Regions from separate parts of the Homo sapiens genome. Here regions 2, 3 and 4 are each reported to be linked to region 1. The links are microRNA targets in miRTarBase. Many come from high-throughput screens and were not tested one by one. Region 1 holds a microRNA gene; each other region holds the end of a gene's coding sequence.
What was found. The annotated mature microRNA hsa-miR-6814-5p reads UCCCAAGGGUGAGAUGCUGCCA and lies in region 1 at 3,641-3,662, opposite strand. An mRNA with a match to its seed (bases 2 to 7 or 8) in the 3' UTR can be bound and repressed. Matches are read on the target gene's strand: a 7mer-m8 pairs with bases 2 to 8, a 7mer-A1 pairs with bases 2 to 7 and ends in A, and an 8mer does both.

Region 2: miRTarBase lists TMEM92 as a target of hsa-miR-6814-5p. Seed matches in the 3' UTR shown: 8mer at 5,040-5,047 and 7mer-A1 at 4,498-4,504.
Region 3: the mRNA of SIGLEC9 is a reported target of hsa-miR-6814-5p. The part of its 3' UTR that is shown has no 7-base or 8-base seed match.
Region 4: miRTarBase lists RABL3 as a target of hsa-miR-6814-5p. Seed matches in the 3' UTR shown: 7mer-A1 at 5,115-5,121 and 7mer-A1 at 4,600-4,606.

The regions. Positions count from the first base shown.
Region 1 is chr21:41,743,175-41,750,332 of GRCh38, forward strand. MIR6814 (microRNA 6814) reads right to left here and starts at 3,667; the gene lies at 3,598-3,667. RIPK4 (receptor interacting serine/threonine kinase 4) reads right to left here. Exons shown (of 8, transcript NM_020639.3): 4 at 5,980-6,029; 5 at 3,439-3,597; 6 at 2,585-2,688; 7 at 708-966.
Region 2 is chr17:50,278,527-50,285,526 of GRCh38, reverse strand. It overlaps TMEM92 (transmembrane protein 92), which reads right to left. Exons shown (of 5, transcript NM_153229.3): 3 at 6,897-6,971; 4 at 6,531-6,726; 5 at 4,042-6,332. The coding sequence ends at 6,219. TMEM92-AS1 (TMEM92 antisense RNA 1) reads left to right here. Exons shown (of 4, transcript NR_125805.1): 2 at 1,320-1,569; 3 at 2,976-3,059; 4 at 3,651-3,948. Among named protein-coding and RNA genes, the nearest start is that of TMEM92-AS1, 5.8 kb to the left of the region's middle. RefSeq lists a silencer at 1,836-1,885.
Region 3 is chr19:51,129,128-51,136,285 of GRCh38, forward strand. SIGLEC9 (sialic acid binding Ig like lectin 9) reads left to right here. Exons shown (of 7, transcript NM_014441.3): 7 at 764-1,183. The coding sequence ends at 952. Among named protein-coding and RNA genes, the nearest start is that of SIGLEC9, 7.8 kb to the left of the region's middle.
Region 4 is chr3:120,683,319-120,690,476 of GRCh38, forward strand. RABL3 (RAB, member of RAS oncogene family like 3) reads right to left here. Exons shown (of 8, transcript NM_173825.5): 7 at 7,131-7,158; 8 at 1,620-6,570. The coding sequence ends at 6,505. Among named protein-coding and RNA genes, the nearest start is that of HGD, 4.7 kb to the left of the region's middle.

The DNA.
Region 1 (7,158 bases):
TATTTTCCATCAGAGCTGCAGCCCCTTCAGGAACAGGGCAGGACCACATCTTACCCCTGCAGCCGGCAGAAAGGAGGCCAGAACAAGCACCAGGTCCAGCACCCTGGGGCAGGGATAGGAAAAAAAGCACCTTCCAGAAACAAAAGCCATCAAAATTAACATAAAAAGATGAGATTAGCTAAAAGAGAAGTGCTCCTCCCTATCAGGTGGTTTGCAAAGGTGGCCTGGTGGTAAAACCTCCAAGGATAACCAACACATTACTAGGCCTGGACTACCGTGAACGGGGAGCCCACATATGCGAAGGCGTGGGTGTGTACCCAGCAGCGTCTGAGCAGAGGGTGCGGGACTGCCACGCCCGAGACAGGAGGCCCGCCAGGGAGTGGGGCTCGGCTACTCGCCAGGCTCACTGCACTGGAGGGGGTTTCCAATCTGTAGACCTGAGGTCAGCCTCCACCCATGGCACTGGCACAGGCAAGACTGCTGCACAGACTGGTGATGTGGCCTGTTCCCCACACATGCTAAGTGACATAAGACGGAGCCAAATGCCCAACACACAAAATTAATTACTTAAGACAGAGAGAACACAAAGAAGAATTCTTGCTGGGTCAAGAAACTGTCCCCTTGATTCCGTTTAGCTTCTCACTGAGTCCAGTCCACTGTCCCGCCAAGCCCAGCATCTCTCGGGACACAGAGGCGTCCCCACTCACCGCTGGTTGAAGGTTCCCGCTCAAAGGACAGCGACAGTGATCCTCTGGAAGAGAAGGCGGAGTCCACCGAGGACACCCCCGAGAGCCTCTTCCCACTGCCGGACGATGGCAGCTTGGACTCAGAGGAGCTGCGGCTGAGCTCCTCGGGGCCCTCGACAGCCTGGGAAACTCCAGAGTCCAGCTGTGAGAGCAGCTCGGAGAGGCTGTAGTCGTTATCGAAGGTGGGGGCAGAGGCCCGCTTGAGCCTCGCAGGCACCACCTGCGAAGATGCAGAAGAGGGGGTGGGTGAAGACCCTGCCATAGACCGCATGGCCCGCCCATGACACAAACACAGAAGAGCAAGGTGGGCCACGGGAGGGAGATGGGGGAGGAAAGGACGGACCCTGGAAGCAATGCAGATAACCTATTGGTCACCGAGCTCAGACCCCGCATCGGCACAGCACTAGGGAGCTCAGACGCCATGTCCACACAGCGCCGCGGAGCTCAGACCCCGCGCCCGCACAGTGCCGGGCAGCTCAGACCCTGCACCCGCACAGCACTTGGGATGCTCAGACTCTGCACCCGCACAGCGCCAGGGAGCTCAAAGACTTGGAGCTACAAAGACTTGCGCTGGCCCCACCCAGCACGGAGACATCTTAAGGAAAGATAGCCTTCATAAAAGTGCAAAATCCAGCCTCATGCAGCTCTGGATACCATCTGCTCAGTAACACTGCACAGAGCGTCACCCAGACAAAAGGCAGGCGGTGTCAAGCTGCAGAATGTGAGGCATGTATGGCGGGACACAGCTGCCCAGCACAGGCCAGCGTTGGCAGGAAACGAGAGGACAGACAGGAACTGGGCAGGACCCCCACACGTGGCCACAACTGCGACCTCCCCGCGGAGCCACGTGGGGCTGGCCTGGGGGCTGTGTGGGGACGAGGGAAAGGGGAAGGACCCGGCTACAGGGACGAGGGGTGATCCAATCCGACATACACCGATGGGGCCTTTTAAAGAGTCTCGCTTCATGGACTGCAGGGGCAGCAGGTTTCTGGTGGGTAAGTGGAATCTGACGGGATTTCACGCTTCTTCCCTTAGGCACACCTGTTTGCCCCAACTCCCCACCCTTTGTGGGACGGCTCGAGGTCCCGCACTGTTGCTGGGTGTACCGAGCCACCCCTACATGTTGGTTGCCTTCTTTCCCTTATCAGGGCCCAGGTCTGCCTCTGTACTAGCAACCCCCGGGCACCTTTGCTCCCGGGCTCACTGGCACACATGCACTTTATGTTGAGGCAGTGGGCGCATATTCCTGATATACATATTTCCTGATCTCCTGAGCTCACACCAACAGCCTGGGATTAATCGCCCAACACCAGATAACACGTTATAAAGCTCACTTATCAGCTGGGCCTCACAGGTCTGCTCCAGCCTCATCACCCGAAAAGGCATTTAGCCAGCCCTGCTACTTGGAGCTTCTTATCACATCTGAAATCACCTGGGTGGCACTCATCAGAGTGCAGACCATTTATGGGCAGCTATAAAGGAACTGGATCCCCGAGCCAGGGGTGCAAAGACACTCAGACACCAGCTCTCCCTCCCCGGCCGGGGCTGGGCCTTCTGATCCCCGTGGTCCACACACATCCAATGAGTGGCTATTTAGTGTCAGGGAAGCCCTTCCGCCACTCACGCAGAATCAGACAGGAGGTGGGGCGGGGATGCAGTCGGGCAGGTGGACCTGAGCCCCCATGGGACCTACACTTCTAATGGAGTTGGGTGCGGGATGGGCTCAGAAGAGAGGGAGAGTGGTCCGGGCGGCGGGGGACTCTGCAAAGAGGAGTGGTTTGGAAACTCCTGCCTGGAAGCCGAGGAGACAAAAGACCCCTGTGGGAAGGACTCGTTACCTCGCTCCTGGGCTCCGGGGGGCTTTTCACGTCCAGATCATGAGCAGTTTCTTTCACTTCGTCATCAGGCTTTTCACACAGGTCCTCGGTTTCAGAAGTAATTTCTTGTGGGGAAGAAAGGGGACATGTCACTCGGATGATGACTTCTGCGTACACACGCGTTCCATATAAACGCAGGGCCCCCACGAGCTGGGGGATTTCTCACACGCCTCGGCCCAGCCTGAGCTCACCAGGCAAGCCCAGGGGCCCTACATGGACAATTTGCTGGCCAAACCCAGGCCCCCCCATCGGTAATCATTTGAAGGCCTCACCAGACTCAAGGCGGAAGCCTTCCCCGGGGGAGCGCCACCTGCCAGTCACAGGGAGCAGAGCTGCCAGCACCTGGCGGATGAGCTCCCCATTCAGCCCGTTTCCTGCCGTAAGCTTTAAATGCAGCAGTTTCCATCTCATCAGGGTGACTTTCCTATGCCAGAGACACATCTGTCCCAGGAAGTCAACTCCTCAAGAGAAGGGCGACGCCGCCGGCCACCGGCCAGGTAAGTCCCCGGGAAGAGCATGGCTGCACCTGAACTTCAGGCTCCCATACAGACTCCTCTGGGTGGCAAGCCCAACCCTGGTGGGGAGCAGGGGGCGGATGGTTGGAGGCAACTCAGTTCCAGCTGCCGTGGCCGAGCCGTGAGTACCAGAGGCCGCAGGCAGGTGCTGGGTCCAACCTATCTGTGCAGGGCTCATTTCGGCCCACCTGTTACACGCCTTGTTTCTCACCCAGGCCTGGTCCCTCACCCTGTCCTGTCTGTCACCTCTGTCTCCTGTGACACCCACAGAATGTGGCGGGGAGACCCCGGGGTGCTCACCTTGGAAGGTGGGCCTAACTCGCGGATCCCCCTGCCAGCACCGCTGCATGAGGCGTATCAGGTGGCTGCAGGCGCGCGGCCGGGCTCTGCACACGGGCGGCAGCTCGGGGCGGTGGCCCTTCACCACCTTCACCATGATGTGCAGGATGTTCTTCTCATCTGCCAAGGGAAGGATGCGAGTCAGGGGCTCTGCAGGGCTGGGTGGCAGCATCTCACCCTTGGGAGGAAACGACACACTCGCCGGGGGCCACAATGGGGCCATCCCCACACCACCCCAGGGAGACGGCTCCCCCACTCCGTTTCAAAGGCAGAGCTTCCTGTAACCCTCACCCTCATGGTGCGCCATGCTCTCTAGTTTCCTGGTTTTGAAATCGACCTCTTTCCCTGGGTTCTGATCTACCAGAAGGAGTCAGTGTGTTTGGTCACAGAGCAGATCTTTCTAGGCATCCCATCCAAAGGAAGATGAGGTTCAAAGGAGAACAATATCTTATGAGGCTCATTCCATCAACAGCCCAAGCCAGCAAAGGGAATGAGGCTCACGCACCATGGAGGAGCCACAGCGTCCTACATCCACAGAGACCCAACTCTCTCTACAATGGCGAAGAAGTCTTCCTCAGTTCCAACTCCAATCCCAAGCTCAGGTCCCCAGCTGGCCTCCCCTGCCGGTGCACCAGGGCTGGGATGTGTGGAAGGGCTCTTTCCCCTCAATTCACCATGTGGGGCCGCACCTGTCCTTTCCAACTGCCTTCACTAGCATGCATGGGCTCTAGCTTATTATTATTATTGCCACAACTTCTACCCTGACTGGGAAGGGCCCAGGGTGACATCCAGTGGGCCAAGTTCTTTTTTCTGCTTAGCCTGGAACCCTCAAGGTTCTTGTTCCCAACAGCCCTCTCTGCCCTCCAGATCCAAACACACCCACGCATGGAATGGCAGCTCTTTGGAGAGGCCATGTGCCTCAGCAGGTGTGGAAAATCAGCCGAGAATCACCCACGGCTGCCAGGATTCCATACAATGTTTTGCTCCACTTTCCCATTAAATCTTGTGCAATAAATATCGTTAAGTGTTTAGCAGGCTATTTCCATGATTATTCAGACTTCAAAACCAACAGCTCCTCTAAATAAAATGGAAGCAAACTGAAGTAAACGCCCGGAATGTTTCCTGCTGCCAAGCACAGACTGGAAAAGCTGGGGAGAGGCCTTGTTCTCCTGCACCTTGAACCCCCTCCTACCCATTTTTGCCTGAGGTTGCAATTTTTTGAATTTGAAAAATCAGACCTTGGCGATGACCTTGAACAGTAGGACACGAATAATTCCCATATGATTAGCGTTCCAATAAGGGAACACTAGGCATATTCAGCAATAAAGCACAAGGGCTTGAGCCTTGACCTGTCCCCTGCGCCTAGCTTCGGGTGTCACATCTATCAGACACTGCCTCATTTCACAAGCCTTCGGGCTGTAGGCCACTGTGCGGGAGAACGTACAGAAGGCAAGAAAGGCGACAGGCGGTCAGACAACACAGACGGACACCGGCCAGCAGAGGCCTGGCAGGACGCGTTCTGTGCTTTCTACTGACATTCTTTTAAAGCTGCCAAGATACTTGATCTTGCGATGCTGGAAGATCTCTTCTCACCCCAGCACTTTCCCATACATCGGCTCCTAGTCTGAGCCCCGACTAACAAGGGGCTAGGCCTTGACTCTCATCTTCATTTTTAGACATTTTCGGTCACACCACAAAATATCATGAGTAGCCCAGAAATGTCTTTAGAGGAAAAGGGAATCTGTCCAACAAAGCTAAAAAGTCCTGGATTTTTATGATAAGTAAGTCAAGGTGTGACAACTTTGAGGATGGTGTTCGGAATGGTGGCTGCCTGGCTGGGGAAGCAAACACCACAGCTCTCAAGCTGGGCAGGGGTGCCACTCCTGCAAGCAACTCCATGGCACTGAGCAGCTCTGGAGGTTGGCTGCGCAAGCACGCGGGTACATGTAATGCTCCTGAACTGTATGCTTCACACGGCTGACATGCTAAGTTTTGTTCTGTGTATTTTATGACTATTTTTTTAAAAAGTAAACAAAAAAGAATTAGCTGGAAATACCAGCACAGGCAAACCCCTGGAGACAGAAAGCAGGTGAGTGGTTGCTGGGGCTTGAGCAGGAGGAAGGGCGAGGGACTGCAGAATGGCCATGGGCTTTGCCTTCTAGCATGATGAGAATGTTCTGGAATTAGACAGTGGTAACGCTTGTTCAACACTGCCAGTGTAGTTAATGTCACTGAATTATACACTTTAAATGGCTAACATGACCAATTTTATGTTATATATATTTTACTACCACAAAAAAACTAGCTGGCACCTAAAAACATTCCATTGAACAGGCCCCTTCAGATCTGTGTCTTTTCCTGCATGCAAATTACACCACAGAGCAGCACCTATGGCAGCGTGGATCACAGGCTCTGTTTTAGGATAGAGAAAGGACAACAAGGTGTCCCCCCATTATTCCAGGAAAGACAAGCACATTACACCTCAAAGACAGGTCCACTCACCTGCAAACGGCTTCTTCTGTGTGAGCACGCCCCAGATGACGATCGCAAAGCTGGAAGAGAAACCAGGCACGTTAGCATCTGACAGCCAGAGACTCAAAGCCAAATGCACTCATGCACAGCAACAGGCGTGAAGACACCTGTTCTGAAGCCTTCCAAAGACAGAGCCATGACACCGAGATATTTCTCCTGTTTTTAAAAAGAGAAAATTCTCTATAGTGAAGCCCAGCATGTTGATAGCTCAGATGTCAGACAGACTCAAGTAACTTCGCCAACTGGGCTACAATCTTCAGGCAGCTTGAGGGACTTCCAAAGAGGGTGCCACCCTATGCGGGGCGTGAGCTCCTGGGGAACAGCGCCTGTGTGCCTCACTGATATCTTCTCGCAAGCACCAGGCACAGAGCACCTGCGCAGGCATTTACTGAAGAAATGGATGAATGAATGATGGGCAACTCCCATGCCCTCCCCCAACAATGATTTCATTCTCTGAAAACACGGATTCTGGTTCTGATCAGCGTTCCTAACGTAGGCTTGCTGAGATTTCAGCGTTCCTAACAGAGGCTCACTGAGAGTTCATCATTAGAGGGTTGTTAAAGAAAGTGCGCAGAAAACGTAGGAGACAACACAGCTGAACGCCCCAAAGCCTTTTTCGGGGGCTGCTTAGAAATATATAGATAATATGAGGGATACGTTCATGTACATTACTCTGGATACACCAAAAAAAGTGCCCAAATTGATTAAAAAAAAAAAAAAAAAAAAGAAAAGAAAAACAGAAGTCCGAAAACTGAGCCTCCAAGGAGCACTGAGTTGGTGAGGGCTGTTTATAGACAACGAATTCACCATCGAAAATTAGTTCAAACGGCAGGTTCAAAAGCTGGAACTCCAAACTCTAAAATAAATGGAGAGGATCTCAATCTCCCCAAACTCTACAAGCTGTGACTAGTCTCCAAAGTGACACTTCCAGGCAACTCTCAGCTTAAAGCCCCAGCTAAGCACATGCACAATGGCCACTGTCAAACCAGTCAGCCTGGGCTGCTGGCGGCGGCAGTGACCAAAAGGCAGAGCTCACATGCGGGGTCCGAGTCACAGTGCTGCTGGATAACAGCCACAATGGGAGGCTTAGTGCCTGCTCACACGCTCCCACCCACTTTTCTTCTCCAAGAAGTCTGTGTGATTAAGACC
Region 2 (7,000 bases), not on the chromosome of region 1:
CAGCTGGGACTACAGGTACATGCCACCGAACCCTGCAGAATCTTAGGGGGTTTTGAAGGAAGGAAGGGTCTCGTTTAAGTTTCTCCAGCCCCCAAGCTCCTTCCCTCCTCAGGCCTTTGCATATGCTGACCCCTCTGGGAACCTGAATGGTGAAAATACAGCAGCCCTGTGAAGACTGGGAGGAGGGCATTGGGAGGGAGGGAAGTTCCAAGCAGAAAAGCCACCAAAGGCCCTGGGCCAGGCCAAGATTTGGGATAGTCAAGTCCCAGAGAGAAGGCAACTGTGGCTGCCACGCAGTGAGAAGGGAGGAGAAGTAGGAGAAGACGCTTGAGGGCAAGGGAGGGGCCACACACTGCCTAAGTCCTGCCAGCTACGGTCAGGGGTTTGAAGTTTATTCCAATGGGCAACTTTAAAAAAAATTTTTTTTTGAATAGGGTCTCGCTCTGTCACCCAGGCTGGAGTACAGTGGTGCGATCACAGCTCACTGCAGCTTCAACCTCTTGATCTCTTAAGCAATCGTCCCACCTCAGTCTCCCCCTGCCCCACCTCCGCACTACCCCGCCCTGCCATCGGATAGCTGGGACCACAGACTCACACCACCATGAGTGAAGCCAAAAAATACAAACATACTTTTTGTATTTTTTTGTAGAGACAGAGGTCTCTCTATGTTGCCCAGGCTGGTCTCGAACTCCTGGGCTCAATCGATCTTCCCTCCCACCTTGGCCTCCCAAAGTGCTGGTATTACAGGAGTGAGACATGGCGCCCAGCCCATTGGAGGATTTTTTTTTTGAGACGGAGTCTCGCTGTGTCACCCAGGCTGGAGTGCAGTGGCACGATCTCAGCTCACTGCAACCTCTGCCTCATTGGAGGATTTTAAGCACGGGAATAACAAGTCTTGTTTGCGCTTTAGAAAGATCTCCCTAAGTGCAGTGTGTGGGATAAACTGCAGGGGGTGAGATGGAGACAAGCCTGGAGGCAGAAATCAGGTAGTTCATTAGGATAGGCTGGGCTAGGGATGAAGGTGGCTTGGTCGAGGGCTGTAACCGTGAAATGGGAATAAGTGGGCCTAGGTCTATTTTGCAGGCAGCGCTGTCAGGATGATGGAGTGAGGGAAAAAGAAATCACAATAATTTCTTAGTGTTTTAGCCTACACAGCTGGGCGAATGGGGAGCGACATCTATTTATGATAGGAGACCTTGGGAAGGACTGGATTTGAGGGGGTGGTGGAGGGAAATTCGAGCCTGCTTTTGGCTGGGAGATGCTCATTAGGCATCCAAGAGGAGGCGTGAGGTAGTTAAATATGTGAATCTGAGTCCCAGGGAGAAGTCTCGGCGGGAGATTAAGTCTTGAGATTCATCAGACCAGAGATGGTCTGTGAAGCCGCAGATCAGGATGACAGCCACTATGGGAATGAACAAAGATGAAGACCGGAGACCCCAAGACAGACCTCCGGGGCAGCCATCACTGAGAGAGGGCGGAGGAGGAGGGGGAAGTGAAGGCTCCTGAGGAGAAGGCCATGTGGAGGAGGGAAACCAGGGGAAGGTGGAGTCGGAGACATTGGAAGAACAGGTAAGGAGGCCATGGCCAAGCGTGTCAAATGCCACTGAGAGATAGGCAGGGGAAGGGACCTTTGGCCTTGGTGACATGTAGGTCACTGATGATCTGGACTAGAGTCATCTCCTGTAACGGTGGGGACAAACGGCTGCTTGGAGCAGCACAGAATGAAAGTGGGGAGGGGGGAGGTGGAACAGCAGATGCCAGAAGGGCTGGGGGCCTCCAGGGAGAGTTTCTAAAGGAGGAAGGGTGGGCATGTTATAAGCGGATGATAATGATCCGGGAAGGGGAGAAAGGCTCTGCAGAGACAACTGCAGGGCCAGGCCCTAAGGAGCAGGAGGGCTGGGGCCCAGTGCAGGCTGGAGGAGCACGATGCAGCTTCCACTGTGCTCTGGCGGGGGAAGGGGGCACGCGTGGATACTGGGTGGCAAGTGTGGGGCATGGAGGTGAGGTGTGCTGGTGTGGGTGCATCCTTTCTTTCTCTGAAGCGTGTGGTGGCATTGCCAGCTGAAATTGAGGTTGGGGGTGTGGGAGATTTGAAATGAGTCATTTCAAGAGCGGGGAAGTGAAGCTGTGAAAGCACATTGGAGGAACCGAGGGCCTGCGCGAAACGTGTGGTTTTGATTTGGAAATGAGTCTAGTCACACAGGGGTGCTGGTTCTTGAGCCATAGTTGGATCCAACTGGAGTTTGGAGTTTGGAGTTTCTCTGGGTGAGCACAGTGAATGGGGAAAAGGGGTAAAGGATGCAGGGTAGTGACTGTAAGGATGGTTTAAGGACATGGTGATGGCGCTGCCAACAGGCAAAGACTGCTGGTTCAGAGGGCTGGGTGGGCTCAGAGAATTGCTGGCATGGTGTGGTGGTGACATAGGACCTACCTGAGCTGGAAGTACAGGAGGTGATGTTCAGAGTGGGAGGCTTGAGGTGATCAGAGCTGACAAGATAAGGTATGTCCACTTGAGACTGTGGCCAAGGTAGAGTGGAGGAAAGCCTGTTGGTGTTAAGGAGCTTCTCTGAATATTCTTACTTGGCCCTTCCCAACTTTGTTTTTTGTTTGTTTGTTTATTTGTTTTGAGACGGAGTCTCGCTCTGTCACCCAGGCTGGAGTACAGTGGCGTGATCTCAGCTCACTGCAACCTCCGCCACCCAGGTTCAAGCGATTCTCGTGCCTTACCCTCCCAAGTAGCTGGGATTACAGGTGCCCACCACCACGCCCAGCTAATTTTTGTGCTTTTAGTAGACAGGATTTCACCATGTTGGCCAGGCTGGTCTCGAATTCCTGACCTCAAGTGATTTACCCACCTCAGCCTCTCAAAGTGCTGGGATTACAGGCATGAGCTACCGTGTTGGGCCCCTTCCCAACTTTGGATTCAGAGCTACGTCCTACCAGAGCCAGAAGGGGCCACGCTCTTCACTGTACAGATGGGCACACCAACGCCTGGAGATGTTGGATGCAGAAGGCGAAATGTCAGAAGCTGGAGTCCTGCATCTCAGCTGGAAGGTGAGGTAAGATTCCTGCTGGTGTTTATCCCTCTCCTCACTTCCCTCAGCAGCAGCCCCTTTCTCCTCCCCTCCTGCATCCCTGGAGCAAGTGCCTTAAGGCCTTCCTGCTTCAACATGCCCCCCACCCTACAGCCTTTCCTGCATTTCCCTGTCCTCTGGGGAGTCCCTGCAGATAGAAATTCAACTGCACAGCCACGAGGAACATCTCCTTGATGTTAACTAGACTGTGTTTCTTTACAAATATCTGGTGGCAGATCTCTTCATTCATTCATTCATTCATTCATTCATGCACCCATTTAATCTTCATTCATTCATTCCATCTTTCATTATTCACTCATTGGGTTTGAGCAACTAAACCAGCCACGAGGGATGAAATTCTCCGTCACTGTGAAACTGCTCATTCACCCAACTAGCCAGCTCACTGTTTCTGTCATTCATTATACACCTCATAAGTCCTGCATAGGTCTGAGATGTGGGCTTCATGTATGTCTGGCAGGCATCCAGGCTTTCCCATCATGTGTCTGTCCCCTGGGTCACATCCATGTCAGGTGGGTACCACAGTCTAAAGTCCTTGTATTCTCTTCCACATACCAGGGCTGATAATTTATCAGTTGCCATTGATCAAAGTTCACAAGGCAAATCTTCATAAACTTCTAAAGCTGCCTACAGTTTCCCGTAAACAAATCTCTAAATTTACAAAAGCAATGCTTGCTGATTGTAAAAAACACACAGTGCCAAAGCATACAAAGGAAGAAGACCCGCTTGCAATTTGCTACCTACATCCCACTCTTGGGGCCAACAACTATTGGAAGTGTGGTGAGTGATTGACTTACATCCTTCTAGATCTTATCTACATATTTGCAAAGAAAAAATATACATATATAAAATAAAATATGTGTGGGTTATATCCTTACAAACTGAGATCATAGGCAGTTCCGCAACTTGCCTTTTCTCTGTAACAATAAGTGATGGATGCTTTGCAGGGTTGGTGCTACAGATCCTATTTATTCTTTTAAAAGGCTGCATAGGGAGCTCTGGTGGCACAATGAATTAGTGCATGATACTTATTGAGCTCTTTTGTATGAGCACTTCTGAAGGCTCATTTCTAGAAGTGGAATTGCCAGGTCACGTGCATTTTACATTTTAATGGATACCCAGTGCCAGGCATAGTGTTTCCTACATAGCAGGAGCTTCGTAAAGATCTGTGGCGTGATTACATGGTGCCAGATGGCCCTCTAGAAAGGTGACACCATTCCCACTCCCACCAAGGATGACCAGAAGAGCCACAGAGGTTTCCATTTCTGTCACCAGGTCACAGCAACACTAGGTTTCAGGATGGCCACTTTCCCTAGGGCCACTCTGCTACTCCCTAGGAGGAGTTAAAGGCCCTGTGATGAAAGGAAGGCAACGTCTGGGCCGAGGGTAACTTCTCCTCCAGGTCTCCCAAGCCCATTTCTCAACATCCTCCTGCTATCACGGTGAGGGCAACATCAGCTGCAGGACTTCTCTAATTGGAACTAGCCACATCTACACAAAGAACCCACATGTTTTCTGCCACCCCTGACCAATCCCTGAAAGTAAAGGGAAACTTCCACTTACGCTTGGGCTCATTCTCCTATGGCCAACCCTGGCACTATATTGTCAGTAACTGCTGCACTCCTTCCAGGGCCCTATCTCACTGGGAACCCACACCCGGACAGTCCCTGTTCCTGGCATCTTTGGGGCTGCCTGTGCCATCAAGCTGCCCCCAGCTCTGCCACCTGCCTGCGTCCTGATGCCCCCAGGATGAGCATTATTGGGAGAGCACTAAAAGAGGCACCCCTGTTGGCATACCAGGGCCAGTTCTACCTCCAATCCTCCTGAGAGCTTTGGCCAGCATTGACATGGGGCTCTCTGCCTGGAGAAGGAGGCTGGCATTGAGTGGGCTGTGGGGGCGCAGTGCAGAGGCAAAAATCAGGGTGGAGGCACTCAGCCCTGTCTGAGTCCCAAGGCATTGGCATTGTCCCGCCCCATTCTGCATGACTATGCCAGGCCCCCATGGGTCGAACCCCAGTGAAGACTCTTCTCCCCTAGGGGGTTAACTCCCACGAGCGAGCGGGGCTGGTAGAGAAGGGTGGAACCTGCCACCTCCTCACCTTCCTGTAGGAGATTCCAGGGTGGGGCCGTTCAAGGTCTCCTAAAGCCCCACTCCACGGATGCCCAGCCCCACCCACTGCTCTCCTGGGCTTTTCCCCACCCCCATTGTCTCCCAGCAGGTGGTTTCCTGCTATCAACAGCAGAATGGGCTGTCCCAGGGCTGCTTCCTGGATCCAACCCCCTCACAGCCAACTTACCAACTTCTCATGGTAAGACAGCCAGAGAGCTGGGCTCCATGTGTCCCAGGAAAGCCTTGGGCGGAAGGGATTGGGAAACCCACACAAGGGACACGCGTACCCCATTTCCAGGCTGTTTGGCACACAGAGACATCAAAAAACAGACAGCCAATACATCTAGAACAAGCCTCTCTCCGAGGGCGGCCCATGGATGGACTGTCCTCCCAGACCTCCCAGGTGGCTCATCAGTGGTGGGATTGCGGCGCAGCGACCCCATCACCGCACCCCTCAGCAGTGCCTGGGCTCACCTCTCCACCCACCTCCCCACACAGCCAGAGGCAGGCCCTCAGCCGCAATCAGTAACATTCAGTGAGGACATGTGTTTATCATGTGTTGTGGGTGGGTGCAGTGAGTTCTCTATTCAGGTAGGAGTGGAAGCTGGCTCAGGGCTCATCCAGTCCAATGTCCCACAGGTATAGAAGTGCCCTGATAAAATCTCAGAGCTGGCTGTCCAGTCAAGATTTGCATACCTCCAGAAATGGGGCTCTTACTACCCCTCACAGTAGCCCATTCTACTGTTGGGCACCTCCAATGGTCAGCATTTTCTTTCCGGCAGCCTCTTTCTTGGGCTGGGGGGTGGGCGGAAACTGTCACTCCAGCCTAACCCTCAGGACAAGAGAGGCAGCTGGGGTGGAAACAGAAGCAGAAAAAGTAATAAGTTAAATCCAAGAATGAACAGAGACACGGCAGGATGGGCAGGGACATTCCTGGGGTGCCAGCAGTCTCTAGCTTGATCCAGGAGGCACTGGGGAGGAGGTTGCTGATGGCAAGATTCCAGGCAGGAGGTGACTCAGAAGGCCGGGTTGTCAATGCCCCTCTGATCCCCGGTATATTCTTCAGGCCTGAAGCTGTAGGGAGGGGGTGGCTCTGTGGGAGTTGGGCCCAGGCTGGGCTTCAGAATCACCTGCAGGGAAAAGAGAGAATTCAGTCTTCTGGGCCCTGGCCCTGGCCACCACTCCCCCATCCCAGCTGAGGCATGGTTACCAGGGAGAGGGGTGACCCAATGCTGGGTGCAGAGTGCCCTCCAGGATCGAAGGGCCCTCCACTGTCTCTGCTGCACAGCCGGCCAGAGGCAAGGTGGGGATGGGGATGAGACACCCACCTCACTGTAGGGGGGTGGGGGCGCAGAAAGGGATACTCTGACCCTCTCTGGGGGGATGATGGAGGGCAGTTCCAGGGGCCCCCGGCAATCCACTGGGCTGTCTGGCTCCGGCTCTCTGCAGTTGCGACAGAAGCACTTAGCCAGGCCACAGATGCAAAAGACGGACAGGATGACCAGGAAGATGATGACGAAGATCCTGGGGTGGGGACCACCAAGAGTACCCTGAGTCCCCAGGCCACCCTGGGGACTCCCTACATCTCCCCGCTCCCGCCGCCCACACTGCCCCCTCGGCAGGTGCCTGGCCTTGTCCACACAGGACCAGGCCCCTCCAAGGACTGCACCCAAAGGAGCTGGCCCTGGGCTCACCTCACGGGGCCAGGGAAGAGCTCGTTCTCCTGGCAGCAGCTGTCACCACAGCATTTGAATCCTTTGGGGCAGGCACTGGTCAGAGGGCACAGAAAAGGGCAAGG
Region 3 (7,158 bases), not on the chromosome of region 1:
CACATTCTGACTTTTTTTGTTTTTTTTTTTTTTTGTTGTTGTTGTTTTTGAGACAGAGTCTTGCTCTGTCGCCCAGGCTGGAGTGCAGTGGTGCGATCTCTGCTCACTGCAACTTCCACCTTCCGGGTTCAAGCCATTCTCCTGCCTCAGCCTCCGGAGTAGCTGGGACTACAGGCGCCTGCCACCACGCCCAGCTAATTTTTTTGTATTTTTAGTAGAGACGGGGTTTCACTGTGTTAGCCAGGATGGTCTCAGTCTCCTGACCTTGTGATCTGCCCACCTTGGCTTCCCGAAGTGCTGGGATTACAGGCGTGAGCCACTGTGACCGGCCACATTCTGACCTTTTAAGCACCTACCTCTCCACTAGGGCAAGAACAAGGGTGAAGTGAGTGAGGCTGTTGCCTCAAGTGCATTTTTTCGTTTGTTTGTTTTTGTTTTTTGAGATGGAGTCTCGCTCTGTCACCCAGGATGTAGTGCAGTGGCACAATCTTGGCTTACTGCAACCTCTGCCTCCTAGGTTCAAGCGATTCTCCTGCCTCAGCCTCCTGAGTAGCTGGGATTAAAGGTGCACACCACCACACCTGGCTAATTTTGTATTTTTAGTAGAGACAGGGTTTCACCATGTTGGCCAGGCTGGTCTCAAACTCCTGACCTCAGGTGATCCGCCTACCTCAGCCTCCTGAAGAGCTGGGATTACAGATGTGAGCCACCGCGCCCCATCCTCACTGTCTGCTCTGACTCACTTCTCTCTCCCATGTCTCAGGGGCCCCTGACTGAACCTTGGGCAGAAGACAGTCCCCCAGACCAGCCTCCCCCAGCTTCTGCCCGCTCCTCAGTGGGGGAAGGAGAGCTCCAGTATGCATCCCTCAGCTTCCAGATGGTGAAGCCTTGGGACTCGCGGGGACAGGAGGCCACTGACACCGAGTACTCGGAGATCAAGATCCACAGATGAGAAACTGCAGAGACTCACCCTGATTGAGGGATCACAGCCCCTCCAGGCAAGGGAGAAGTCAGAGGCTGATTCTTGTAGAATTAACAGCCCTCAACGTGATGAGCTATGATAACACTATGAATTATGTGCAGAGTGAAAAGCACACAGGCTTTAGAGTCAAAGTATCTCAAACCTGAATCCACACTGTGCCCTCCCTTTTATTTTTTTAACTAAAAGACAGACAAATTCCTACCTCTCTGTACCTTGGTTTCCTGCTCTGTAAAACAGGAATGAGAAGCCCTACTTGCAAGGTTGTGGTCACCATTCCAGGAGTCACATCCCGTTAGAGCTCCTGGCACAGGTGTATGCCGAGCACTGATGGATCGCTGTGCTTTGAACACAAAGGTCCTGCTGGGAACCTCTCCTGATTCTGGTGGCAACTAGTACTTATATGTCTGTGTCACTTGCCTGCAAAATAGCGATTCTGCAACTTTCCAGGAAATAACCTCAGCCTGCAAATCAGGTCTAGGTAGCATCTGGATCCTGCCCACCTCTTCAGCCTCATCTGCCCACCCTGTGACTGCTAGGCCGCCTTACTCTCTGCAGTCTACGTATTGTGCACAGTCCAGTGGGAATCTTTAGGACACACTGAGCTCTCTCCGCACTGCTCACAGCCCATCCATGGCTCCTGGATCCTGAACCTCCCATCACATCCTCTTCGTGACATCACTCTCCCACTTCAGTCCACTCCTCCATCTTCACCACTTAACCCACTGGTCCCTCTGGTCTTTTCCAAATCATTTGCAACATGCCCTGTTGGTTCATACCTCAGTCCTTGCACACTGGGGACCCTCCTCCTAGAACGCCCTCCTCCTGGGCCTTCTTCTGTCTCTGTCTTTGAAAATGGAGTTCAAGGATTGGACTTCTGGGTTGAGCTGAGGGAGAGAGTGAAGCAGCAGCTCATGATCTCCCTCCTCTAAAGCCAAACCCAGGGAATGAGAAACGTTTCCAAAGGGGCACAGGATCATCTGGCAAATTAAACAACATGATCCAAAAAAATTTACCTACATGCAGCACCCGAACGAGGAAAGGGACATCTCACAACAATCACTTTATGCAGTAGCCCTGATAGGAAGAAATCAAAGGACTGGAGGAAGCACTAAAACTTCCCTAAATCTAGACTCTTGCCCATTTACGGCAGCATCAAAAAACCGTAAAGTACCAAGGAACAATTTTTTAAAAATCATGGCCGGGCACAGTGTCTCACGCCTGTAATTCCAGCACTTTGGGAGGCCGAGGTGGGCAGATCACGAGGTCAGGAGATCGAGACCATCCTGGCTAACATGGTGAAACCCTGTCTCTACTAAAAATACAAAAATTAGCCGGGCGTGGTGGCGGGTGCCTGTAGTCCCAGCTACTCGGGAGGCTGAGGCAGGAGAATGGCGTGAACCCGGGTGGTGGAGCTTGCAGTGAGCTGAGATCGTGCCACTGCACTCCAGCCTGGGAGACAGAGCGAGACTCCGTCTCAAAAAAAATAAATAAATAAATAAATAAATAAGTAAAAAATCATATCCGAGCTGGGCGTGGTGGCTCACGCCTGTCATCCCAACACTTTGGGAGGCTGAGGAGGGCAAATCACTTCAGGTCAGGGGTTCAAGACCAGCCTGGCCAACATGGTGAAACCCCATGTCTACTAAAAATACAAAAATTAGCCAGGCGAGGTGGCGTATGCCTGTAGTCCTTGCTACTTGGGAGGCTGAGGCAGGAGAATTGCTTGAACCCGGGAGGCGGAGGTTGCAGTGAGCTGAGATTGTGCCATTGCACTCTAGCCTGGGCGACAGAGCAAGAGTCTGTGTCAAAAAAAAAAAAAAAAAATCCTATGCTATGGTTTGGATATGGTTTGTTTGGCCCTGCCAAGCCTCCTGTTGATATTTGATGCCCAGTGTTGGCGGTGGGGCCAAATGGGAGGTGTTCAGGTCCCGGGATTGGATCCCTCATGAATGGCTTGGTGCTGTCTTCAAGGTAATGAGAGAGTTCTCACTCTGTTACTTCCTGTGAGAGTTTCTCCAAGAGCTGGGTGTTAAAAAGACATTGGCACCTCCCCTCCCCAGCCCGTGCTTCCTCTCTTGCCGTATTGTCTGCACATGCAGACTTCCTTTTGCCTTCCACCATGAGTGGAAGCTTCCTGAGACCCTCACCAGAAGCAAAGGCTGGTGCCAAGCATTTTCTATGTGGTGCAGAACTGTGAGCCAAATAAACTGTGGGGGGTGCACGGCAACATATTCAAGCTTATGTACAAGGCATTTGAGGTCGAGGCATGGAAAAATACTGAGGCACCGTGTGCGTGTTGTTTGTGCATGAGATTGAAACTCCTTGACCCTGAAAACAGGGCAAGGAACGGAATGTGTGATAAGGAGCGCGGAAAGCAGCCTCCTGAGACTGTAGTCTGAGTGTTTTTACCAGGCCATATGTGTCTCATGACCCGACCGCAAAAGGCCATCTGGTGGACATTTTGGTTTAACAAACCCTTTCGAGAAACACTTGGCGGACGGATTCTGGGGCGGCACTCTTTCAGAGATGCTGCTGCCGCCGCATCCCGCTCAGCTGGAATTGTCTGAGTGCTTCATTCTTGGCGTTCACTGCAGCTACAAGCTGTATAAACCTCTTTTCTTTATAAATTACCCAGCCTCAGATATTACTCTATAGCAACACAAATGAACTAAGATAACACGGAATGCTTCTGTACTGATGAATATAGAACATTTTTGAGAGACTTAAGGAAGGCCCAAATGAAGGAAGAAATATATCACGTTCATGGATTAGAAGGCAAAAATGGTTAAAATGTCAGTTGTCTGCATATTGATTTAGGTAATCCCTGTCAAAATTCCTATATATATATAAAATATATGTATATGTGTATATGTATGTACATAAGTATAGATGAGTGTATATGTATGTATATTGTAAATATAAGTTTATATATATACATATATAGTTATAAATTGATAAGTTGGTTCTGAAATTTATATAAACACATAAAAACCTAGAATAACCAAATCATTGTGATAAGAAACACATTTAGAGAAGGCAGACTTTAACACTAGAGTAATACAGAGAGTGTGGTGTGGACTAGAGTACAGTCTACAAATGGACCCACACATATACAGTCAACTGAATAGCATCAAGTCTATTCAATTGGGACAGGAAAGACTTTTAATAAATGTTGGTAGGTGGTCGGGCGCGGTGGCTCACACCTGTAATCCCAGCACTTTGGGAGGCTGAGGTGGGTGGATCACTTGAGGTCAGGAGTTCAAGACCAGCCTGGATAACATGGTGAAACACCATCTCTACCAAAAATACAAAAAAAAAAAAAAAAAATTAGCTGGGTGTGGTGGCAGGCAACTGTAATCCCAGGTACTAGGGAGGCTGAAGCAGAATTGCTTGAACCCAGGAGGCAGAGGTTGCAGTGAGCCAAGATTGTGCCACTGTACTCCAGCCTGGCGACAGAGTGAGACCCCATCTTGAAAATAAATAAATAAATAAAAAATAAATGTTAGCGGAACAAGTGAAATTAGGGTTGGTAAAAACGAGTGTTGAGCTGTTTCTCACATCACACGCAAAAAATTAGCCTGAAGCGAATCATAAACCTAAAAGTAAAAGCGGAGACTATAATGTTTGTACAACTGTGCTGTTTGATATGGTAACCACTAGCCACATGTGGCTACTGAGCACTTGAAATGTCCTACATTTAGTGAGAAAATAATATAAAAATCTAAGTAATTAATATTTAAAATTGATTACATGTTTCCATGTAACGGCATAATACTCATCAATATATAATAACAATATATAATACATGCAATAGCTTGAATAAATTTTGAAAACATCTTGAGTCAAAGAAGCCAGATGCAAAAGAATACATGCTCTGTAGTTTCACTTATATGAAGTTCAAGAACAGGCCAAACTAATCTACAAAGACAGAAATTCATAACAGTGACTGCCTCAGGTTGGGAGTGGGATTTGGGGATTAACGTGAATGGCACACAGGGGAACTTTCTGGGGTCCTGGGAATTTTATTTCTTTCTTTTCTTTTTTTTTTTTTTTTTTTTTTTTTTTGAGAAGGAGTCTAGCTCTGTTGCCGGGCTGGAGTGCAGTGGCTCACTGCAACCTCCGCCTCCAGGGTTCAAGCGATTCTCCTGCCTCAGCCTCCTGAGTAGCTGGGATTACAGGCACGGGCCACCATGCCCAGCTAATTTTTGTATTTTTAATAGAGATGACCACCATGTTGGCCAAGACCACCATGTTGGCCAGGATGGTCTTGATCTCTTGACCCTGTGATCCAACCACCTCTGCATCCCAAAGTGCTGGGATTACAGGCGTGAGCCACTGCGCCCAGCCAGTCCTAGGAATAGTCTATGTCTTAACTGGGATAGTAATTATGTGGTTATGAATCAAAACACATTGAATCACGCAAATAAAATCTATGTATTTTACTGTATGTAAATTTACCTTTCATGAAAGAGAAATTAAAAACTCTTAAATGATGAAAGCTTTTGGTTCCCTCTTTTTTATTAGACTAGCTAGTGATCTATCAATCTTATTTGTTCTTTCAAAGAACCAACTTTGGGGTATACTGATCTTTTGTAGGAATTTTCGTATCTCAATTTTATTCATTTCAGCTCTGATTTTGGTTATTTGTTTTATTCTGCTAGCTTTGGGGTTGACTTGCTCTTGTTTTTCTAATTCCTCTAGGTGTAATGTTAAGTTGCTAATTTGGGATCTTTCTAACTTTTTGATATGGGTATTCTGGTACATTGCATCTTTACTTTCCTGGATGCTAGGACCAAACTGGACTAGAGTAAATTACGTGGTTCCTTCTGTCCCAAAGAAAGATGTATTTTTAACTCAGGAGCTACATCAGCCCCATCTGGCTACATTAAGCATCCCAGTCTCCTCTGCGTCTCATGCTGGACTCTATGCAAAAGGGACAGCCAGCGAAAGCATTATTGATATGTCAATATTGAGATGTGAGAATTTGATCCTGTCATTATGTTGTTAGCTGGTTGTTATGTAGACGTGATTGTATAGTTGCTTCATAATGTCAGTGGGTTATACACTTAACCACTTAACACCACTTTCTGTGGTGTCATGTAACATTCTTTCACTTCTGTGTTTGGCACTCACTTAAGGACCTCTTATAAGTCAGGTCCGGTGGTAATGAATTTTTTTCAGTTTTTGTTTGTCTGAAAGGGATTTTATTTATCCTTCGTTTATGAAGCTTAGTTTGGCAGGGTATGAAAATCTTGGCTGAAATTTGTTTTCTTTAAGAATGCTGAATATAGGCCCCGAATGTCTTTGGCTTATATGATTTCTGCTAAAAGCTCTTCTGTTAGCCTGATGGGGTTCCCTTTGTACATGACCTGCCTCTTCCTTTTAGCTGCATTGAATATTTTTTCTTTCATGTGAACCTTAGAAAATCTAATGACTCTGTGTCTGGGGGATGGTAATCTTGTACAGTATCTTCCTGGGGTTCTCTGAATTTCCTGAATTTATATGTCAACCTCTCTAGCAAGGTTGGGGAAATTTTTGTGGATGATATCCTCAAATATGTTTTATAAGTTGCTGCGTCTCTCTTTTTCCAGGATTCCAGTGGGCCGTAGGTTTGGTCTCTTTATATAATCCCATATTTGTTGGAGGGTTTTGTCATTTTTTTTAATTCTTTTTTTAAAAATTTTTGTCTGATTGGGTTGATTCAGAGAACTGGTCTTTGAGCTCTGAGATTCTTTTCTCAGCTTAATCTATTCTGATGTTAATACTTCCGCTTGTATTATGAAATTTTTGCAGTTTTTCAGCTCTAACAGATCAGTTTGATTCTCTCTTAAAATGATTATTTTATCTTTCAGATCTTGAATCATTTTATTGGATTTCCTACATTCCTTGGACTGGGTTTCGAGTTTCTCCTGAATCTCCGTGATCTTTGTTGCCATCCAGATTCTGAATTCTATGTCTATCATTTCAGTCATTTCAGACTCATTAAGAACATTGCTGGGGAGATAGTGTGGTCACTTGAAGGTAAAATACTCTGGCTTTTGGATGTGTCAGATTTCTTTCACTGGTTCTTCCTCATCTGTGTGGGCTGATGTTCCTTTAATCTTTGAAGTTGCTGTTCTTTGGATAGGGCTCTTTGCTTTTATATTCTCTGATGCCCTTGAGGGTTTCACAGTGGT
Region 4 (7,158 bases), not on the chromosome of region 1:
GTTTGAAACATGCCTGTGCCTTAGGACAGGGCCCATTCTTGCAGCCTGAGACCACAGTGCAGAGAAGCTGGGCTGGCCTCCAGAGGTCCAGGCAACAGCCCTGCAAGCCCCACAGGAACTGCCAGACATGTGAATGAGGCAGTCTGGCTGCCAGGTGACTGCAGAACATGTGTGATCCCAGGCAAGACCAGCAGAAGAACCACCAGTTAAATCTGGCCCGAACTGCTGAGCCACAGAATTGGGAACAAATAGAATGGTGTATTTCACACTACTAAATTTTGGGGTGGTTTGTTAAGCAGTGATAAATAACTGATATAATCATGCAGGTTGAAAAACATGTGCATATTTGAAGTGGCCACAGGCTGCTAGTTTGAGACCCTCTGCTTTAGATAAATGGGCTTAAACAACCTCCAAGGGTCCCCAGGCTCCAGCATACTGCAGTAGCAGCAGAATTATTGCCTGTGTATGAGGTGCTAGCACAGACTGGGCCAGACCAAAGGGGACATGTTGATAGGAAACATGCTGGTAGCAAACCATGTGGACTGATGCCTACGGACCGGGCAGCTGATAGGAAACCTCAGCATATGTCAGCATAGACAGATGGCATTGTGGCATTATATAAACTATTCTGGAATTCATATGCAAACCTAGGAGGAAGGTAGGTGGAGGCCCTAGCTTTATTGAGGCTAAGTTTTCACTATTCCTATAACATGCAGACTCTGAAACTGAATTCGAAGAAAATATCTCCTGTGTATCTAAGTTTATGAGTACCTTGGGCCTTCAATCTCTATTGATCTTGGAAGTTAGCAGTTGGTCATTAGATAAACAAATGGGAGCTAATAAAAGACAAAGGGAAATCTTTACTGCCTTATTTTTCAACAAACTTTCTATGTTACTTCCATTGAACCAGTTGTGAAGGCAGATTTAAGAAGTGTTTCAGTTCTTTCCTAAGGTATGAGAGACTTCTGAAGGGGTAAGAAAGTGTTAACAGTTCCTTGACTGGATTAAAATTACTTTGAGGGGCTTGAAAATATTTAAAGTTGAATACATCTTTCACTAAACTTTAGGGATTCCTTCTAAAAGGAGAGAATACACACAGGGGATATTAAAATATTATTTTATTATTTAATTTTTTTTTTGAGACAGGTTCTCTGTCATCCAGGCTGGAGTGCAGTGGCACAAAAATGGCTCACTGAAGCCTCAACCTCCTGGGCTAAAGCGATCCTCCCATCTCAGCCTCCTGAGTAGCTGGGACTACAGGCACACACCACCACACCCGGCTACTTTAAAAATTTTTTAGTAGAGATGAGGTCTCGTCATGTTGCCCAGGCTGAACTTGAACTCCTAGGCTCAAGCAATCCTCCCACTTCAGCCTCCCAAAGTGCTGGGATTACAGACGTGAACTCCTGCACCTGACTTAATGTTTTTTTTTAGAGACAGAGTCTTGCTGTGTCATCCAAGCTGGAGTGCAGTGGCATCATCACAGCTCACTGCAGCCTTTAACTCCCAGGCATAAGCCATCCTCTGGCCTCAGCCTCCCAAAGTATTGGAATTACAGGCATAAGCCATCATGTCCTGCTGGGATTGGAGAATAAATAACTTACACAGCTACAGATAAGTTCTGATTCTATGTCTAATGGCTTTCCATTTTAATTAATGTAATTATACATTCATTTATTTAACAATTTTTGAAAACCATCACAACATAGTGTAAGTGCTCTGACAGGAAAGAGCCCAGGGATCTAGGGGAAGCACTAGTGGGCACGTAGCCCAGACGAGCAGAGCCAGGGAGGGCTTCCCAGAGAAGACTATGTCTGAGCCAAGTCCCATAGAGTAAGAGTTGGATAGAAAGTGGAAAACATTACATCCAGGAATTGCTACAAGGTAATGTGAAGCAGGGTGTGACAGGTCTACAGAGTAATCACTCCAAAACGGAGTTAGGCATCAGAGGACTCCAGGACAGATGTCTCCGAGAAAAAGATGGAACGGAGAGATTACCTGATATACTTGATGGTACTGAGCGAGGTTTTACACCTTGGTTGGAGTTTAGGGGTTCCATTCTTTGTCATTAGTTATTGATGACCTCGGTAAAGCTTAGTGATTAGCCAGCTGAGAAAACACAGTACTAGAGAGGGGGCTGTGTGTAAGATGGCAAGGCACTGGTTAGAAATAAATATATTTGGATTAAAAACAGAACCCAGGGGAAAAACAGTGGCAGTAATAAAAATGATAGCAATACATGAAAGACAAATACTTGTTTTGCCAACAGAAGACATGACAATCATCTCATGTTTAATTTGGCATATGTAGCTTTGAGTGGGGAGGAGTGGATCAGTTCATTAAGGTGAGATCAGGTTGAGGCAGTCAAAGATGCGCTTTGATGAATTCTGCTATAATGGCACTCATAAAGTACAGAGTTCACAATCTATATTCCCTACTTTTTGATGAGTTTATTTGTCTTTCTTAAAGGCTAGATCCTGACTTATCTGCATGAGAAAAATCTGGCTTGTCTGTTAAAAATACAAAATCCTGGCCTTATCCTATACATATAGAAAGGGGAGAGTAAGGGAAGAGAGAGGAAATCGTGGAATCTGCATTTTCAGCAAGCACTTCAGGGGATTCTTACACACTTCAGAGTTTGAAAGCCCTCCATGTGAGTCCTTAATGGAGGTGCAGATTAATTGTAACTGGATGTCCAATTCCTTTACTATGCTATGGAGCAGCCCCAGCTGACCCTAACATCAGATATTTTGTGTAGGCAAACATGTTGTGAAATATTTGAGACACAGGGTTAGACTTCCTGCGACCCTTCCTCTCCCACCACAGTGATTTAGCTCAGTCTTGGGACTGCGGAGAAATGAATTTCTAATTTCCTTCTCCTCCTTTCCCCAAAACAGACTCCTCCTTTGAATTTTAACATATATTAAACCAATGCAGACACCCTGTTAGACCTTTAAACTTCTTAAAATATGATGTCACCTGTGCTTTAAAAAATTCAATTAAGCCACCATCTAGTAACCCATACAAGGTCCTACCTATGGTGGGTGCTACTGCAAACTATTGAAATGAGGACTCAGAAACTCTGATTACAAGGAGCAATTAGGAGCTCTTCACCTCAGTCTGATGTCCCTGCACATCATTTCCATGAAGTCCATGTCAGAATGAACAGAAAAACAAGTGTCAGGGCACCTGGATTATATCATGAATGCCTCAAGTTTGAGGAATTCTAAGAACCCGAGCTAAAGCTAATATGGATCAACTCTTTTGGGAATAGCTTTTCTTAGAGCACTGTAGCGGAGAAGAGCTTTCTTTCTTCACCCATCACTAGGTTCACAAATGAGGCACCTATAACGAAAGACAGATTATTGAGAAAAGCACACACATTTATTTACTGTAAGTTTTACATGACAGGAATCTTCAGAAATGAAGACAAAAAAGAAATAGGAAAACTTGTGTATTTTTATGTACAGTCTTATGCAGAAGTATAATCAGAGGACAAAAGGACATAATCTAATGGTAATAAACTGTGGAGAACTTAGCAAGTCCTATTTGTCCAGATTCTTCTTGGTGTCTCTGTATCTGTGAGGATAAAGGGTACCTATGGAATGAAGGTTTTATGATCTACTTCAGGGAACAGTCACTTAGGGTTTATGGCCTGCTTCAGGGGAGAAGGGGTAAGGGGAAGGTATGAGAAACCTTGCTTCTGCAGTTTTCTCAAATAACAGGGTGCAATATTTTGGGGTTATGTGTCCTGAATCCCATCAACGTTAAGATGGAGAGACCAGCCCAAATCTTTAGTTGGATTCCAGCTAAGTCTTATACACCTAAGGGACAGAGGAGTAGTCATATATATGCCTTCATATCTGGTCACCTTCACAATGAGTCAGAAAATTGGTCAGACACCGAAATCACAACAGAAAAAAAAAATCTTTATTTCTACCAACTTGTCCCATCAAGAGAGTAAGATATACATATGTAAAGAGATGGAGTCCCACTCTGTCATCAGGCTGCTGGAAGGCAGTGGTGCAATCATGAATCACTGCAGCCTCAAACTCCCGAGCTCAAGTGATCCTCCTGCCTCAGTCTCCTAGAGTGCTGGGATTATAGGCGTGAGCCAGCACCTGGCCAATTATACTTTTAAAAAAATATTTTGACATTTATACTTGTTTATTATCTAAAAGCATTTTTATGAATAGTTCTCAAGAAGTCCTAGCAAAAATTGTGCTTCATTCTTTTTTGAATAACTCTAGCTAATAACATTCATTTGCGCAAAAAGCCTTATTATGCTGCTGCTAATAATTGCAACAAATTTACCTTAGATTATTAAAAACTATTTTTTCTTAGAAAACTATAATTCAAGGAATCAAGCTTGGCTGCAGAAAGTAATGGAGTTGAGGAATACTGTTAATTTTTCCAGATTGACCCTGGAGTCATCAGCAATAGTTTACTTTTATTATTTATTTATATATTTATATATTTATTTATTTATTTTCTTTTAGTTGGAGTCTCACTCTGTCACCTAGGCTGGAGTGCAGTGACACGATCTTGACTCACTGCAACCTCCACCTCCCAGGTTCAAGTGATTCTCCTGCCTCAGCCTCCCAAGTAGCTGGGATTACAGGCGCGTGCCACCAGGCCTGGCTAATTTTTGTATTTTTAGTAGAGACAGGGTTTCCCTATGTTGGCCAGGCTGGTCTCAAACTCCTGATATCAAGTGATCGACCCGCCTCCCAAAGTGTTGGGATTAAAGGTGTGAGCCACCGCGCCTGGCCTATTTTTATTTTTTAAATAAGATAGAAAATAAAAAAATCAGGATGAATTTTTTTAAAATTAAAAGAAAGAGGAAGAAAGAAGGAAGGAAGATTTATTTCTTGAAGGAGAAATACAAAGAGCTTAATTGGGTTAGGTCTCTGGGTAGCATTTGGTTTCTACTTCCCAACTGTACAGCCTATGCAACAACATACTTGTGACCAATTCTACATACAGATCATGATTTGCATAGCTTTCCTTTGTGTCAAAAAGAAACCAGGGCTATGTCCTTTCAAAGAGGAAGTAAAGAAAGGCTGGAGAACAGTCTAGCTGATGAAAGCTGCTTTAAAAATCCTTTTCCAAATTCCCAAGACTGCCTTTCTAAAAGGACTCTCTAACATTCTTATTTTAATATCCTCTTGCAGCATACCTTGATTTCCAAGATACTTCTGAAACCTAATTAAAATGGAACAGAAAGTGAATTTGGTGTTTTCCACCTATTTTTTAAATGAGAAATGAAAACTGTATATTTATTATTGTTATTTAAAAGTATGGAGCAAAATCAGGAGTGCAGAGACCTGCAGCAGAGCCAGAGAGAGAATACGGGTGATAGAGTGTTGAATAAATTGTTTTTAGAAATCAAATTCATATACTCAGGAAGAACTGGGGCAGAGAAGATTAAGCAAGCAAAAAGATAGGTTAAAAAAAGTAATGATGAACAATTACGGACACACACACACACACACACCATCCCCAAAAAGCTTTGGAGTGATTATGAAATCCAAGAATCCTAGTTCATAATTCATGTAAATGTGTTGCTGTGGAACTTATTTTTACTTCTCTCCATAAATACATTGTTGACACAGAATAATATTCTTAGTTTTCTGATTATAGCTAAGGGACATTTCAGGAGTTGACTTTTCCTTAAAAAAACAAATAGAGAGGAGGCTGTAAATGTCTCTCACTGCCCTTGTGCAGGTCTTAGATTTTACCCTACCTATTTCCAAACAGAAAACCTAGACTGTATATAGCAGCAACCTTAAGAGTGAGGGAGCTGTCAATTTTTCACATCATTTTACCAGAATTCTTTTTTTCTGGTATTGCTGTTCTCTATGTATTATTAATTTGTATTTATATTTAACTCTGGCTATTAGTCCGCCTCTTCCAGTCACTGAGCCATTTGCAAAGGAGAGAAGAGGGAGACAAGGGTTGCTATTATTAGGCATTCCTGTGTGTGACAATGGTGGAGACAATTAAATAACACCATTTTGCATCTTTGAAAATGACAGAGATTGTTTGGGGTAGACAACTCAGGGCTGGTTAACAAGACCGTTCCCCTCAAGAAGGTAAAACAATGGAGATACGTTTTTGAAGTACTTAATTAAGCTTTCAGCAATGAGTGTGGGAAAATTACAGACCCATAAAAACCCTCCAGTTCTAGGCAAGAGTAAATTTTCTCTGCAGTACACTGTCATTGCTCATTTACTGCATCATTTTGACAACATCTCATATTTACACAAGGCTTTTACATAATCTATACACAGGGACAGAAAGGTAAGGAACACAGAGAACAGGGACAAAGTTTGGACCTCCCGTATTGTCACTTCCTTTCATTTTTCCATTAAAGGGTAAGGCTGAAGGGTAGCATTTTAAGATGATTTTGTTAAAAGGCTGTGATGGTAATAATTGAACACAGCAAGATGAGCTGTGAAAAACTGCCACTGCTTGCTCACTCTTCCAAAGGATGAGTGTAATTCAGTCATAATGAAGGCTCTTTAATGTTCCTGCCCCAAATCTTTTCCGATCAGGAAAGCCTGGAATCTGTAGGCAAGAAAGATAATTGCATTAAGTCTCAAGCAATAAAAGTTCAAATACTAATAGTAATTTTTCCCTTCTTTTCCATTTCTGTATGTCAGCCTGCTGTTTCTTAAAAAAACAACTTTCTGAGGTTTTACTCAGAAAACCACAGATTAAATAATAAAAATAAATCTTACCCAAATGGAAAACATTTCCCAACAAATTGGTGATAGTGTCATCTAAATCAGAAAGAATGAAGGTAAATCTCATAATACCTACTAGACTTTTATAGAAATTATTTGTATTGTGACAGACCCTGAACGTATACTCTTGGAGTCCCAAGCAAATTATTTTCTTCTTCTATTTTATAATGTAATCTTATTCCTAGATTATATTTGTTTCCTAGATCCTTATTTTCCCTTTGTTCTGATTTTCTCCTTTTGTATTTAACAGGATAGAAGGAAATCAGTTGCTTGTGCCTATAAAGGGCTTTCCCCAACTTTTTAAAACTACTTCTGAACTTAAATTTGGAAATCACCTATCAAAATTTAAGAATCTATTTTATCAAGAAAAGAGATACCAACCTGATTACCTTCTCTTAAAAAGTATCTC